Regions from separate parts of the Homo sapiens genome. Here region 2 is linked to region 1. The links come from fine-mapping of genetic effects on gene expression. Tissue or cell type: sun-exposed skin. Region 1 holds a variant in brackets; the other region holds the start of a gene. All regions are shown on one strand. Distances are from middle to middle.

Region 1 (8,101 bases):
TGTCTGGGGCAGCCCCCAGACTCATCTCCAGGCTGTTCCTCCCTAGGTGTACAACCCCTACCGCTTTGACCCGGACAACCCACAGCAGCGCTCTCCACTGGCCTATGTGCCCTTCTCTGCAGGACCCAGGTAACCCCTCTATTTCCCCTAGTCCAAGCCAGCTGTGTAGGAACAGAGGCAGGGAAAGATCAGGAATGTGCCTCTCAGGAGCAGAGATCAGATGGCACCCAGGCGTCCTTTCTGAAGACCCAGCACCCTCTCCCCAATGCGCCAGGAGGCCCCCAAATCAGACTCTGCAATAGCATCCTGGGTATTGAGCACCAACGGTGTGTCAGGCCCTGAGTTCTGGGCTCCCACGCTCCCATTGGCTCTATGATGCCTTTGTCCCCGTTTTTACAGATGAAGGAACTGAGACTCAGAGGGGGCGCTGTGTATCCAGGACACACAGCTAGTAAGAGGCTGTACTGGGATTCAGACACTCAACCCCAAGGTCACATTAATTGAGCGATCCGTGGGGTCTCACTTTAACCCTCACCCAGCGTGGGGTTTCACTTTAACCCTCAGCCAGCCCAGGATGCTTGCTTCATTTTCAAAGGAGGCATGTGACCCCCGGGGACCAGTGCTCACACAGAAGCTGGGCCTGAGCCCTGTCCCCTCTTCCTCCAGGAATTGCATCGGACAGAGCTTCGCCATGGCCGAGTTGCGCGTGGTTGTGGCACTAACACTGCTACGTTTCCGCCTGAGCGTGGACCGAACGCGCAAGGTGCGGCGGAAGCCGGAGCTCATACTGCGCACGGAGAACGGGCTCTGGCTCAAGGTGGAGCCGCTGCCTCCGCGGGCCTGAGCGTGGGCGCGCCCCTGCGGCTCCCGAGGGTCCAGGCCCCGCCCCCAAAGGACCAGGACTCGCCCCAAAGATCCCGAGGGCATAGGCCACCCCCCTCGAAGTTCAGGTTCAGCTCCTGGATGACCAGGCACCGCTGTTGAGCAGCCTGGTGGTACTGGCCACGCCCCTCAAGGCAAGGCTCCTCCCCTTAGGGGGCCTGATCCCGCCCCTTGAGGCTTAGGTCCCGCCCCCTGACTTCTCGCACCTGTCCTGTTTGAGGGACCAGGGTCGACCCTGCCCCCTTGGGCTCAGGCCCCGCCCCCAGGATCCTACGGATTGAGGTCCTCAGGCCACGCCCCTGCAGATCCAGGTCTCCAGGCCTTGCCCACTGAGCCTTCAGAGGACCTAAGACCCACCTATGACTCAGGGCCCACCACACCCCACCCCCCCCCAACTGGCTGAACCCCTGGCAGGCTTCCAAACTGAGGAAAGCTGGAGCCTGACGTCAGAGCTTTTAACTCGGACATCACCCTCCTGAGGCCCTCAGCTCATACGGGCAGACTGCTCAGGCGTGAGGCTGGATCGTAGGGTTCGAGGCTGCTTGCTTTTGTTGTTGTTTTGTAAACTCAGACCCTTGTAAGCCCCTTCCTTCCTCCCTTGCCCAAAGATCCTTTGCTGAGTGTTCTGTTTTTGCAGAATAAAAGCAAAGGATGCAGACTTACCCCACCCTCCACCCCTAGCTCAGCCAGATCCTTACACGTGGAGCCCCCAGCATGGGAATGAGGGGCTCTGCAACTGAGCGAAGCTGCGGGCTAGGAGGCTGGAAAGCCATTTATCCTAGGACATAAACTCAGATTTTGGGGGTCAGTTTGTGTGTTCATTTATTTCATCAACAGATCACATATTGTTTGCTGGCACTGCTTCAGAACCACAGGCAGGCCCTGTTTTCTGCCTTCTTAGGGGGTGGGGGACAGATGTTGAACAAATAATTCCACGTGTAAAGGTTTATTTACAACCCAGGACAGGTGCTCCAAAGGAGAGGCCCCGGGTGCTGGATGAATATAGCAGAGGGATGGGGATGGGTCAGGGAGAGCTTCTCCGATGCTGGAATGGAAGTTGAGTGGGTGACAAGGGGAGGGAAGAGTATTCCAGGCAGAAGGAACAACATCTGAGAATACCCTGAGCTGAGGGAGAACAGAGTGTGTTTGAGGAACTCACCAGGGGCCAGGTGGTTGGATCTGGGAAGTGGGGGCAGAATGAAGGAAGGGGCCAAATGCACAGGCTTTATGCTGAGGGCAATAGGGAGCCATGGAGAGTGTGTGAGCGGGATCAGGACAGGACATGGCCAGATCTAGGGCTGGCAGGGAGGTGACTTGCGGGGTTGGGACCCTGGGAAAGAGGGAAGCTGAGGTCCAGACAACAGGAAGGGCCAGGATTGGGGTGACTATCTAGCAGTGGGGGCTGAGGGGAGGGAGGTGGTAAGGGTGATGCTCAGGTATTTGGCTGAGGGAACTTGATGGTAGAGTAGTCCCTGATATGGGAATATAAAAGATGGGGGCCAGGCGTGATGGCTTACACCTGTAATCCCAGCACTTTGGGAGGCTGAGGCTGGAGGATTGCTTGAGACCAGGAGTTAGAGACCAGCCAGGGCAACACAGTGAGACTCCATTTCTACAAAAAATAAAAAATTAGCCAGGTGTGATGGTGCACATCTGTAGTCCCAGCTACTTGGGAGGCTGAGGCAGGAGGATCACTTGAGCTGAGGAGTTTGAGGCTGCAGTGAGCTATGATCACACCACTGCACTCCAGCTGGGGCAACAGAGCAAGACCCTGTTCCAAAAACAAACAAACAAAAAAAGGTGGGCAATGACAATGTCAGCAATTTTATACATATAAAATGCTACACTAAAGGAAAATGATACTGCTATTATACCACATATATAATATATATATATGCACTATATATGCCATCATTATATATATAGTGGTGGTATAATAGTGGTATCATCTTCCTTTTAGGTAGCATTTGCCTGTAGACTATTTCCATCTAGGTCACTAGAGACAATAATATTAATTCAACAGGCCGGGTGCGGTGGCTCATGCCTGTAATCCCAGCACTTTGGGAGGCTGAGACAGGTGGATCACCTGAGGTTAGGAGTTTGAGACCAGCCTGGCCAACATGGTGAAACCCTGTCTCTACTAAAAAATACAAAAATTAGCCACGTTTGATGGCGGGTGCCTGTAATCCCAGCTACTCAGTAGGCTGAGGCAGGAGAATCGCTTGAACCTGGGAGGTGGAGGTTGCAGTGAGCCGAGATTGTGCCACTGCACTCCAGCCTGGGCGACAGAGTGAGATTCTGTCTAAAAAAAAAATTAATTTACCAAATATTTCTTGGGCAATCTGCCGTGAGACAGGCACTGTTTGAGCCCTAGGTTCCCAGAGTTTACCTCTAGGGAGGAGATATGATAAATGATAAATAAGTAAAGAAAGAAGTAAATTCACACAGGGCCTTTTCTGTGACTTTTTTTGTGACAGAAATGGGGAGTTCTGAGCAGAGGAGGGACAAGCTTTGTCATACGAACTTTTTTTTTTTTTTTTTTGAGACAGGGTCATGCTTTGTTGCTCAGGCTGGTGTGCAGGGGTGCAACCATAGCTCACTGCAGCCTTGGCCTCCTTGGGCTCAAACGATCCTCCTGCCTCAGCCTCCTGAGTAGCTGGGACCACAGGCACACACCACCATGCCCAGCTAAGCTTTGTATTTGTTATCGAGACGGGGGTCTTACCATGTTGCCCAGGCTGGTCTTGAACTCCTGGTCTCAAGCGATCCTCCCACCTCAGCCTCCCAAAGTGCTGGAATTACAGGTGTGAGCCACCATGCCAGGACTTCCACAGGACTTTGTGTGCTCTGTTAAACAGAGACAGTGTGAGCAAAGATGGGACTAGGCAGATCAGTTAGGGGTGACTGCATTCGTCCAGGTGAGACATGATGGTGGCTTCAACCAAGCCGGGGTCTTTAGATGTGATCAAGAGCAATTGGATTCCAAGGAGGAGTGACTGTTCACAAAGGCAGTGCTGTCAGGCTTGGTGGTGGATAAAACGTGAAGTTTGAAAGAAGTGGGGGACACTAGGTTTGGGCTTGAACATCTGGAAAAATGGAACTGCCATCAGCTGACGTGGGGAATGCTGAGTGGAGTAAGTTGTTTTGTGGGAGATGTCAGGATGTCAGTTTTGGTTCAGAGGAATTGGACATGTCAGTCGAATAAACGGTTCTCCAATTCAAGAGTTTTGGGTTGGGCATGTATATTTGGGAAGCCTTAGTATAAATATTTTATATATTTTTCCAAAAGCTAGTGAAGCGATTTCAAATGGGGGTGATTTTTCCTACCAGATGACATTCGTTGTTATTTGGAAACATTTTTGGTTGTCACAACCGGTGGTTACTATTTGCGTCTAGAGGGTAGGGACCCAGCACTCTGCTAAACATTCTACAAGACAAAGGATACCTAGCTCAATAAAACAAGTAATTATCCAGTCCCAAAGGCAACAGTTCTGCTAATTAAAAACCATGAACTGGAGAACCAAAACAAACAAAAAAAAAAAAACAAAAAAAAAAAAACAGAAAAGAAAGCAAAACTTTAAGACTGGGTGAGATCTCATGTGTGCGTGTGTGTGTGCGCGCACGCGCGCGCGCGCGTGTGTGTGTGTGTGTGTGTGTGTGTGTGTGTATGGAGTAAGGGCTTAAGGGAGCCCTGGGGGTGGTCTCCAAAGTTAACCTAACAATTATGAGGCCAGGCGTGGTAGCTCACACCTGTAATCCCAGCACTTTGGGACGCCGGGGTGGGCGGATCAGTTGAGGCGAGGAGTTCCAGACCAGCCTGGCCAACATGGTGAAACTCCATCTCTACTTAAAATACAAAAAATTAGGGCAGGGCGCGGTGGCTGACTCCTGTAATCCCAGCACTTTGGGAGGCCGAGGCGGGCGGATCACGAGGTCAGGAGATTGAGA[T/C]CATCCTGGCTAACACGGTGAAACACTGTCTCTACTAAAAATAAAAAAAAAATCAGACGGGAGTGGTGGCACGCGCCTGTAGTCCCAGCTACTCGGTAGGGCGAGACAGGAGAATCGCTTGAACCCGGGAGACGGAGGTTGCAGTGAGCCAAGATAGTGCCGCTGCACTCCAGCCTGGGTGACAGAGCGAGACTCGGTCTGAAAAACAAAAACAAAACTTTTTTTTTTGATTGAGTGCTTCCTGTGTGCTCTTTCCATATATTCCCATTTAATCCTCATACTGACTTGTAAGATCACTTTTTATTATTCCGTTTAACAGAGGTAGAAACTGAGCCCCCGAATGAAGTGACTTACCCAAGATCATTCGGTGCGGCCTCAGCGCTGGCGCTGAGTCCTCTTCTGCCCCACCCCTCAGGCTCCCAGTCCTGGTCTAGATCCCTAGCCACGTAGCGTAGAAGGGGGCGTCGACGGGGGTTGGGCTAGAGTTGGAGCGGGGAGGAGATGAGCTAAAGCGGGGCTGGCTGTGCGAGAGGCAGTAGCAGCGGCGTGTGTCCTGGGGCGCCCCCCGGTGGCCTGTGCTGGGGTCGTCGGCCGGGATCCCCTGTTCGACGTACTCCGGGGCTGAATGGGAAACAGACAGTCCCAGACCCTACGTGAGCCACCCGGATCTTGCAGGTGCTGCCTCTCCTACACCCCCCTCCCAACCGAGGGTCTCCAAGAGCGCATCCTTTGCCAAACATCTCCTGGGCCCTTTTCGGCGCAACCTCGCCATCCACTAGCAAACGAAGTTAGCCTTGAGATCCGACATATGTGGGCTCAATCTAGGCTCTTCCTTCCTAGGGGCGGCCTTGGGCACGTGACTGTCCCTCTCTGCACCTCGGCTTTTTCTTGTCATGCGAATAGTCCGGTATCATCATGCTTGTAATGCACACTGAGTTTCCGCCAAGGGCCACGAGGGTGAATAAATGAGAATGAGAAGGGGAGGAGTAAGGTCCCTGGGTCCCCGGAGCCCTGTTACACGTACTGCAAGTGTAATTCTCAAAACACCGAAGTCTGGTCCTGTCGCTGGCGGCTGTGGGACCTCCTTCCTCCTGAGTGTGAAGAACGCTCCCTCTGCTGGACAATTTGGAGATCCATTCTCTATTCGTTCAATTTTGTGTCCGTGCACGTTTGAGCGTGCATGTGTGACCGCGTATGTGTTTGGGTGCATTTGGGTAACAGTGTGTGCATGTGTTGTAGTGTGCACACGAGTGTGTGTAAACGTGTATGTGTCGGTGTGACTGTGTGTGCGCATATGGATGGGTGTGTTGGAAGGAGAGGAGAGGAGAACTCCACTCACTGAGTCACTGTAACTATCCACACACACCAGGCTGTGTTCCTGCTCATGGCTGGAGCCACTGTCAGAGCCCTTGCCTCTGTCCCCAGGTCTGACCTGTGCGGTGCAGGCAGGACATTCTGGAGAAATCATGCCCTTGGAGGAAGCTGTCAGTAATGACTGGTGGGTATTGGTGGATAAATACCCCAGCTCCCTCTCTCTGGGGGTGAAGACTCCCTTGTTCTGGGAGGTGCATGTTCTATTCTGTCTCCCTGAGGTACTAGGCAGGGCTGAGCCCTAGCTACCCACAGTGGAAACTTCCTCAATAAAGGTCCCTTTAACTGCTGCTGCCTTCCCTTCCCCATCCCTCTTCTCCATTGCCCTAATTGTGTTTCCAGGGATCACCTCCCAAAGAAACAACAGGCAGTTGAACTCTTGTCTTATGGTCACCCTCCTGATAGAGGATTTGCACTCAACTCCTTGTATTAAGGTCTAGTTCCAGGGAACCCAAATTAAGACACACATGTGTGCTGGTTCCTCCAATCCCCAGAAGCCTGTCAGTGTGCGCTTTTATTTATTTTTTTTACCAACGATGAATGTGAGGCTCAGAGAGGGCAAATCACTTGCCCAAGGTCACACGGCAGTGAGGGAGTGGCAGAGCCTGGCTTTGACTATGGGCTGTCTGACCACAAGCTGGGTGCTCACTCCTCTCCTGACAGCCTCCTCCCTCCTCAAGGACATGGAAGGAGCAGGGAATAAGTTATAAGTGTAAAATTTGAAAGGGAAATTCTTCCGCTTTCTGCTTCTGCTTCTACCTCTGGCCCAGCAGTTTGGTGTGCTCTTTTTTCAGTTTTTAAAAATTAAAAAACGTTCATATATATATGAACGTTTTCCAATGTATATAAAAGCATTTATGCACACGTTACCGGGTTTTTTTTGTTTATTAAAAAAATTTTTTTTTTGGAGACAGGGTCTCACTCTGTCACCCAGGCTGGAGTGCAGTGGCATGATCTCGGCTCACTGCAACCTCTGCCTCCTGGGTTCAAGTGATTCTACTGCCTCAGCTTCCTGAGTAGCTGGGATTACAGGCACACCACCATGCCTGGCTAATTTTTTTTTTGTTATTTTTAGTAGATATGAGGTTTCACCATGCTGGCCAGGCTGGTCTTGAACTCCTGACCTCAAATGATCCACCCACCTTGGCCTCCCAGTGCTGGGATTACAGGGGTGAGCCACTGCACCCGGCCTTTTTTTTTTTTTCTTTTTTTGATACAGGGTATTGCTCTGTTGCCTAGGCTGGAGTGCAGTGGCTCAATCTCAACTCATTGCAACCTCTGTCTCCTGGGGTCAAGCAATCCTCCCACCACCACATCCAGATGCTTTTTTTTGTATTTTCTGTAGAGATGGGGTTTTACCATGTTGCCCAGGCTGAACTGGAACTCCTGGATTCAAGTGATCCGCCTATGTTGGCCCCCCGAACTGTTGTGATTACAGGCCTGAGTCACTGCACCCAGTCCATTATCAGTTTTTTGATGACTCCAAACTTGTTGGGAAATATATCTGTTTCAATTATCTATTATTGTATATTGAACTACCAGGAAACTTAGTAGGTTAAAACAATATACAGGCCAAGCTCGGTGGCTCATGCCTGTAATCCCAGCACTTTGGGAGGCCGAGGCTGGCGGATCACCTGAGGTCGGGAGTTCGAGACCAGCCTGACCAACACGGAGAAACCCTGTCTCTACTAAAAATACAAAGTTAGCCGGGCGCGGTGGTGTGAGCCTGTAATCCCAGCTACTTGGGAGGCTGAGGCAGGAGAATCGCTTGAACTAGGGAGGCAGAGGTTGCTGTGAGCCAAGATCATGCCATTGCACTCCAGTCTGGGAAACAAGAGCGAAACTCCATCTCAAAAAAATAAAAAAGATATACAAGTTTTTTTTTTTTTTTTGGTATGTG
Region 2 (8,101 bases), 45 kb before region 1:
AAAACCCTGTCTCTACTAAAAATACAAAAATTAGCCGGGCGTGGTGGTGCAAGCCTGTAATCCCAGCTACTCAGGAGGCTGAGGCAGGAGAATTGCTTGAACCCGGGAGGTGGAGGTTGCAGTCAGCCAAGATAGCACCACTGCACTCTAGCCTGGGTGACAGAGCAAGACTCTGTTTGATTAAAAAATAAAATAAAAGGCCAGGCACGGCAGCTCATGCCTGTAATCCCAGCACTTTGGGAGGCCAAGGCAGGTGGATCACTTGAGGTCAGGAGTTTGAGACCAGCCTGGCCAATACGGCGAAACCCCGTCTCTACTAAAAATACAAAAATTAGCCGGGCTTGGTGGTGGGCACCTGTAGTCTCAGCTACTCGGGAGGCTGAGGCAGGAGAATCGCTTGACCCCGGGAGGCGGAGGTTACAGTGAGCCAAGATTGTGCCACTGTATCCAGCCTGGACAACAGAGCAACAGAGTGAGACTCCATCTTAAAAAAAAAAAAAAAGTGGCTGTGATCCCCACTTCTGCCCTCCCCTCCTCTTCTCTGCCCACCTCCCTCCTGAGTGATCTCGCTGACCTACTGCCATGCCATCCACCGTCTTCCCAAGGCAGGTGACTCACAGATGCAATTCTCAGGAGGTGCCCTCACGCTGAGCCCAACTGCCTCCTGGATGTCTCCCTGAATGTCATCCCATGAGACCCACGAGACTTTTAGACTGAAGGTGACCCACGGTTTCCCAATCTTAGCACTGTCAACATTTGAGCCTGGATTATTCTTTGGGGGTGGGGGTGTTCTGGATGTTGAATAATATCTCTGGCCTTCACCCACTAGATGTCAGTTGCACCACCCTGAATTCCCCCACCCCCACCTCTACCCCCCACCCAGCAGTATGATCTCCTGATGTTGCTAAACATTCCCTGGCGGAAAACTCTACTCTGCTGGGATGGCCCCAATCAACTGCAAACTCAAACAGCTGATGTTTGTCCAGCCTGTGCCCTGTGCCAGGAGTGGGGCTGAACACCACCTCATCACATGGGCTTCTTCTGCATTTTATGCATAGGGAGATGGAGGCTCAGAGCAGCCATGTGACTAGCTCAAGGCCACACATCCACGAAGCCCACTCTTAGTGCTCCAGGCCCTTTCACTTACTCCTCCTTCCTGGTCTCCAGCTCTTTGAGAGCAGAGAAGCCAGGCAGATGGCTTCTTTTCCTTCTCTCTTCCCTAGAACCCCGTATTTAGCCAGTGGTCAGTGGAGATGACCTCCGGGACCTCATCCTTAACCCCTTCCTGGGTCTCAGCTACCCCCACCCTTTGTCTCTGTCCCCTGCAGCCACTGGAGGGGTCCCTCTCAAACTTCACTCTATGTGGATCTCTGCATTTTCCAAAGTGCTTCTAGTAAGCTCCCCCTTGGCCAGAATTACTGGCAAAACAAAATTCATATCCCTAAAAAATAGGCTTTCATGCTGCGTTAATTATGAATAAAAAATTAATAAAATAAGCTCTTCCTCAGAAGTAAAAAAGATTAAAGACACAAATAAATATAAATATTTTTTTTTAAAAGTTCTAGGAGCTGGGAGAATGGCTTGAGCCCAGGAGTTTGAGACCAGCCTGGGCAACATAGTGAGACCCTGTCTCTAAAAAAATGAAAAAAAAAAATTAGCTGGGTGTGGTGGCACGTGTCTGTAGTCCCAACTACCCAGGAGGCTGAGGCAGGAGGATGGCTTGAGCCCAGGAGTCACCCCAGCCTGGATGACAGAGTGAGACCAATCAACTAACAGGGGGCACCTCCCCTACTCAAGCACCATCCATGGCTCCCCACTGCCCACCAGATCAAGATCCAGCCATTCAAACTGGCCTTCACAGTCAACTCCTGCATCCCTCCAGCCTCCACACCTCTCACACTCCAAGGCCAGGGAAAGCCATCTGCTAAGTCACACCCTCCAGTTTCTCTGTGCTTGAGCTCTACCCCCTCTCCTGCACTTGTTGAAATCCAACCTCTCCATGCAGTCCCAGCTCAAGTGTCACATCCTCCACGTCGCCTTCCCTGACCTCATGTCTGCCTCCTCCAAGCAGCAAAACTTCAATTACTTGTGTCTCCTCTTCTTCACCAGGAGACATGCCCCACACCTCCCACGCCCTCTTTCCAAGGGCCCAGCACCAAATGAGAGCGTATTCTTAGAAAAAAGAGGGATAAGGAAGTCTTCTAAGTTTACCACCTGCTGGGGCAAGTGGAGATTCTTGTCTTCTCATCTGTCTGCCCACGTGCTAAGGTCAGCCACACATCCACCCACCGACTCCGGAGGACAGACACATCCAGAGGCGGAGCTGACTCTGTCTCCACACATCTGGAGTAGACGGGTTGGCCAAGGACAACATCCTGGTCAGAGGGTCAAGGTGTCTGGCAGTGGGTGGGGAGGAGTGGCGGAGGGCGGGTTGGCGGGGAGCAGAACCAGTCTGGTGCTGCTTGTTGAGGTTGGAGGTCTTCCTGGAGGAAGAGGCTGCAGAGCCTCCAGGGGTGGGTGCCGGGGAAGCTTAGGCCCAGGATCCAGAGAGAGGGGAAGGGCTGGTTCCCAAGGGCTGGTGGAGCCAGAGAATTCCTGAGGGCCCCAGAGGAGGCTTCTCGGGGGGGTCAGTGGGGCCCCAGGGGGTGATGGTTTAGAGATCGCTGTCCAAGCTTGGGAGCAAACCTGGAAGTAAGGGCCATGGGGGGTGTTGGTGTGGGAGGAGTGTGGTCCAGAGCGGGACTTGGGCGCTAATGCGGCCCAGCAGTGGCAGGAGGGCGGGGAGCCTGATGGTTTGGGACTTCTAGGTGTCCAAGTCTCTGTCTCTCTTCATCTCTCCATCTCAGTCTCAGTCTCTCTCTCTTTCCATCGCTCTCCACCCCTCCACACGCCTATTTCTTGTTCTCTCCTTTTCTAGGGGGCAGCGCTGGAGTCCCCGCCCAGAACCCTGCGGGAGCCCGGGGCGGGATGTCCGGGGGCGGACCCCTCGGCACGGCCGGGCGGGGTTAAAGGGTTGGGCCGTGGGACGGCGCGGTCAGATCCCAGGTAGTGGCGCCGGTGGATCCGGATCGAGGGCAGGAGGCTGAGACCCGCGGGTGAGTGCGCGCGTGGTGAGGGCTGTAACCTGAGCGCGGCCGCGGCGCTGCGCTGGAACCCGAGGCTCGCGCGGTTCGGTGCTGGCGGGGCAAGGGCGAAGGTCTGCGCGCGGCGGCGGGCGGGGCGCAGCCGGCCACGGGGACCCCCCCAGGACCCAGGACGGGGCTGCATGCCCGGGGCACTCGTGGGGAGAGGGGCACGTGGGTGTGTCCCCGACGTTTGCTGCATTTGTGAGTTGTTTTCTTTTTTTTTTTTTCTGTGTGCGCCTCGGAGTCCTAGGCGCATCCTTTTCTCTGGGTATCTGTGATGGGCAGGGGGCCTCCAAAAGACCCCTCTGGTAGTCAGGACATCCCAGATGGGTTCAAGCCCCGCCCTGGGACGCCTCTTTGGGGCTGAATGGGGATTCGCCCTGAGATTTCACCACTGCACGTTGTCTTGACGGGGAGGTTGTAGTACATTCAACCGATGGGGTTAGGCTTGTGGTTCAACTGCTATCAGGAACCCTCTGCCCATCCATGCCAGACGCAGAGCCCCTCTATGAAAAGACGGTGTTCTTCTGGCCCCGAGAGTTGGCTCTGAGGGTTGTGTGAGGTCCTGGGGTTGGTCCCAGGTGATCTTCGTCTGATAGATGCTGGAAGGAAGATGTTTTCTGGCCTCCCAGGGGCCTGGCCCAGCCTGGGTATGCAAGTTGGCCGAGGCTGGCCACCTGGGGAGTCGCAGGCTGGAGAGGCCTAGGCTCAGGGCATCTCTCCTGGTTCATCTGCCCGCTCACAGCTCATTCATGCACTCATTGTGAGTCTCACCGCCCTGTAGGCAAAGGAGATGGCCAGGGCTGGCTGCGTACCCGAAATTCCTCCTACCCTGTGCCCCTTGCTCCACCCCTTATTTCTAGGTCCTGGAGCTGTGCCCAGCCAGGGCTGGCAGCATCAAACTCCTTCTTGTGTAACTCCAAACCCCAAAGAGAAGGAACCTCCCCAAATCTTCCCTACCACCCTCATTTTACAGGCACGGAAACTGAGGGCCAGAGAGAAGAAGCCTGTGCCTGTGGATACCCAGTGCCCAGTGGGAGAGCTGGGATTTGAAAAAACAAGCCCTGTTTGACCCCAAAGCCTCAGTCCACTTTCCGATGTCCCCGGCATCACCAAATGGCCCAGCTTGGGTTTCTGAACAGTAACATTAACTCTGGCCTGGTGTCTGGCGGTGACCCAGGTTGGTATCTGCAGAGGGGCTTGGATGACTTGAGAGGCATTCAGGGAATGGGACCCATCTCTCCTTCCTTCCTTCCTTCCTTCCTTCCTTCCTTCCTTCCTTCCTTCCTTCCTTTCTTTCTTTCCTTCCTTCTTTCTTTCTTTCTTTCTTTCTTTTCTCTGTCTCTCTCTCTTTCTTTCTTTCTTTCTTTTTTTGTTGTTGTTGTTGAGACAGGGTCTCACTTTGTCACCCAGGCAGGAGTGCAGTGGCATAATCATAGCTCACTGCAGCCTCGATCTCCTGGGTTCAAGCAATCCTCCTACCTCAGCCTCCTGAGTATGGAGGACTACAGGCATGCACCACCACTCCTGTCTACTTTTTGTATTTTTGGTAGGGATGGGGTTTCACCATGTTGCCCAGGCTGGTCTTGAACTCTTGGGCTCAAGTGATCCACCCGCCTCAGCCTCCCAAAGTGCTGGGATTACAGGCATGAGCCACTGCGCCTGACTCATCTCTCCTTGTTGATAAAACTTGGACCTGATTCTCCAAACCCCAGATGGCCAGGTCACAATAATGAACGTGATGGCAGCACCAACGGTAATGAGAGATATCATTGATCAAAGGCTTACTATGTGCCTGGAAGATTGCAGCCCCATGAGGTGGGTAAATAGGGCTTCTGTCTTAATGGATGAAGAAATTGAGGCTCAGAGAGGTGCAGACACTCACCCGAGGTCGCACAGCAAAGAGGCAGACCTTTATAGAATCTTTTCTGAGGCTCATGTCCAGGTGTGGCCACACTTGGGATGGTGGGCAGAAACAATTACAACCCTGCAATGGTCTAGATTATTAGTGGTTTTAAAACTTCTTTTTCTGCCAGGATCCCCTTTGGGCCAAGGAAATTATTAGCAAAAGGTTTGAATATGATCAAAGCTGCGATAGGACTGTCTCCTTTACCACATTTGCCAACTTGGCCCTGCCCTCATTAGTCATAAATGACTCTGAAGCTCTTTCTCAGAACCTTAGAAATTTAGAGTGCTGAGTGGAGACTGAAGACCTAGAAGCCAGGCTGAGTGTGGTGGCTCATGCCTGTAATCCCAGCACTTTGGGAGGCTAAGGCTGGAGGATGGTTTGAGCCCAGGACTTTGAGACCAGCCTGGGGAATATAGGGATACCATATATATATATATATATATATTTTTTTTTTTTTTTTTGAGATGGAGTTTTGCTCTTGTTGCCCAGGCTGGAGTGTAATGGCGTGATCTTGGCTCACTGCAACCCCTGCCTCCCGGGTTCAAGCTGTTCTCTTGCCTCAGCCTCCTGAGTAGCTGAGACTACAGGCATGTGCCACCATGCCTGGCTAATTTTGTATTTTTAGTAGAGATGGGGTTTCTCCATGTTGGTCAGGCTGGTCTCGAACTCCCGACCTCAGGTGATCCTCCCTCCTCCCAAAGTGCTGAGATTACAGGCATGATTACAGGCATGAGCCACCGCGCCCAGCACTATATTAATTTTTTTTAACAAAAAAATTAAAAAAAAATTAGCTGAGCATGGTGGCAGGCGCCTGTAGTCCCAGCTACTCAGGATGCTGAGGTGGGAGGATCACTCAAGCCCAGGACGGGGAGGTTGCAGTGAGCCAAGATCACACCACTGCACTCCAGCCTGAAGGACACAGCAAGACCATGTCTAAAAAACAAAACAAACAAACAACAACAACAACAAAACAACTTAGAAGTCCCCTCTCAGCTCCAGCCTTCTGGGGTCTGGCACTTTGGGGGAATATGTGAGTCTCTGGGGTAAGCCAGCCCTCTGATGTTGAGGAAGCCAAGGTGGCACCATGAATCAGTGGGGACGGGGGCAGGCTGCCTTGACTACAGGCTTGGAGTGAAAAGGAGGGCTGGGATTTGGGGTGATGGGGCCAGCGTTGGGGTGCTCTTCCATCAGGCTCCTGGCTGGTCCCAGCCCCTGCAGTTCAAGAAGAGGCATGTATCTCGTACCTGGCGTCGGCCTGGGTCCGTGCCCTCCACTCCTTCTTGGGAGCCCACACACCTTGTATAACAAGTCCTCAGTGGGTGAACGGCTGGGCCAACCTGACAAACCAGCGCGACCTGGGCGTGGGCCGGGACACGGAGCCAGTCGCTGGCTTTCACCACCACCAGATAATGCGGGCCCTGGCAGGGCAGGGCCACCTCTACCAAGGCGGGCCTGCTGGATGAGATCGGGGGCCGGTGTAGATAGGGAGTGGACATGCCAGCCGCCCACAACATTCTGAGGGTGTCACCTTTGAATTGCTCTCACTTCTATCAAATAGCAATAATAGGAGTAGTCATCATGGCTAACATTTTGTGAGCTACGTGACAAGGCCTTTCCATGCCTCATTTCACTGAGCCGTCCCAAAAACCTTAGGGGGTAGGTCCTGTTATTATCAACCCATTTCACAGATTGGCAAAGGGAGGCTGATGGCAGGGACTGGGTTCACCCAAGGCTGCTAACCTAGGGAATAGGAGAGCTGAGATTTGAACCCAGGCCTGTTGAAGTCAAAAGTGAACATTAAATTAAATTAAATTAATTTTAGTTTTTGAGATAGAGTCTCACTCTGTCCCCCAGGCTGGAGTGCAGTGGCAAGATTTTGGCTCATTGCAACCTCTGCCTCAGCCTCCCAAGTAGCTGGGGCTACAGGCATCCACCACCATGCCCAGCTATTTCTTTTTTTCTTGGTAGAGACAGGGTTTCATCATGTTGCCCAGGTTGGTCTTAAATTCCTGACCTCAAGTGATCCTCCCTCCTCAGCCTCCCAAAGTGCTGGGATTACAGGCATGAGCCACCATGCCTGGCCTGATTTTTTTGTTTTTTAGTAGAGACGGAGTCTCACTATGTTGCACAGGCTGGTCTCAAATTCCTTGGTTCAAGTGATCCTCCCATCTTGGCCTCCCAAAGTGCTGGGATTACGGGCATGAGCCACTTCACCTGGCTGATACCTTTCCTCCATTATCTAAACTCCATAGTTTACATTAGGATTCACTCTTTGTGTCATGCAGTAAACTAATGAATTTTTATAATTGATTCAATTTTTTTTGAATGGGTGACATGTGCTCATGGTATAGGAAACCAAAACGACTGGAAAAGTGGATAGTAAACTTAAGTTTCCCTTCCACCCCTGTCCCGAGTTCTTTCAGGCCCTTTCCAGAGGCTGCCACCATTTTTCCTGGGTCCTCAAAGCTTTTCTCTCTCTCTCTCTCTCTCTTTTTTGTATTACCATTTATTGGTGACAAACACTAAGTTTTACTCGCATTCCATGAGGAGAAAAACTCCAGTGTAAACGATGAATGGAGGCAGTACTTAACTCGCAGGGGTACCAGGCTTTCCATATGGACCACACACAGAGCCTCAGTGCACACACTTCTTTTTTCATTTTTATTTTTTTGAGACGGAATCTCGCTTTGTGACCCAGGCTGGAGTGCAGTGGCATGTTCTCGGCTCACTGCAACCTCTGCCTCCCGAGTTCAAGCGATTCTCCTGCCTCAGCCTCCTGAGTAGCTGGGACTACAGGCGAATGCTGCCACGCCCTGCTAATTTTTTGTATATATATATATTTTTTTTTTTTTTTTTTTTTGAGACAGAGTCTCACTCTGTCACCGAGGCTGGAGTGCAGTGGCGCGATCTCGGCTCACTGCAAACTCCGCCTCCCGGGTTCACGCCATTCTTCAGCCTCAGCCTCCCGAGTAGCTGGGACTACAGGCGCCCGCCACCTCGCCCGGCTAATTTTTTTTATTTTTAGTAGAGACGGGGTTTCACCGTGTTAGCTAGGATGGTCTCGATC

Evidence for each region. PIP is the estimated chance that this variant, and not a neighbour inherited with it, causes the effect.
Region 2: CYP4F22 starts here. The variant in region 1 is fine-mapped to the expression of CYP4F22 in sun-exposed skin (GTEx, PIP above 0.99).

Annotation. Positions count from the first base shown.
Region 1 is chr19:15,550,628-15,558,728 of GRCh38, forward strand. It overlaps CYP4F22 (cytochrome P450 family 4 subfamily F member 22), which reads left to right. Exons shown (of 14, transcript NM_173483.4): 13 at 47-129; 14 at 667-1,690. The coding sequence ends at 844. Among named protein-coding and RNA genes, the nearest start is that of CYP4F22, 46 kb to the left of the region's middle. RefSeq lists silencers at 939-988, 5,186-5,245 and an enhancer at 5,706-5,845. The variant T/C (reference allele first, on the strand shown) is at 4,831.
Region 2 is chr19:15,505,489-15,513,589 of GRCh38, forward strand. CYP4F22 (cytochrome P450 family 4 subfamily F member 22) reads left to right here and starts at 3,037. Exons shown (of 14, transcript NM_173483.4): 1 at 3,037-3,095. RefSeq lists an enhancer at 2,681-3,181.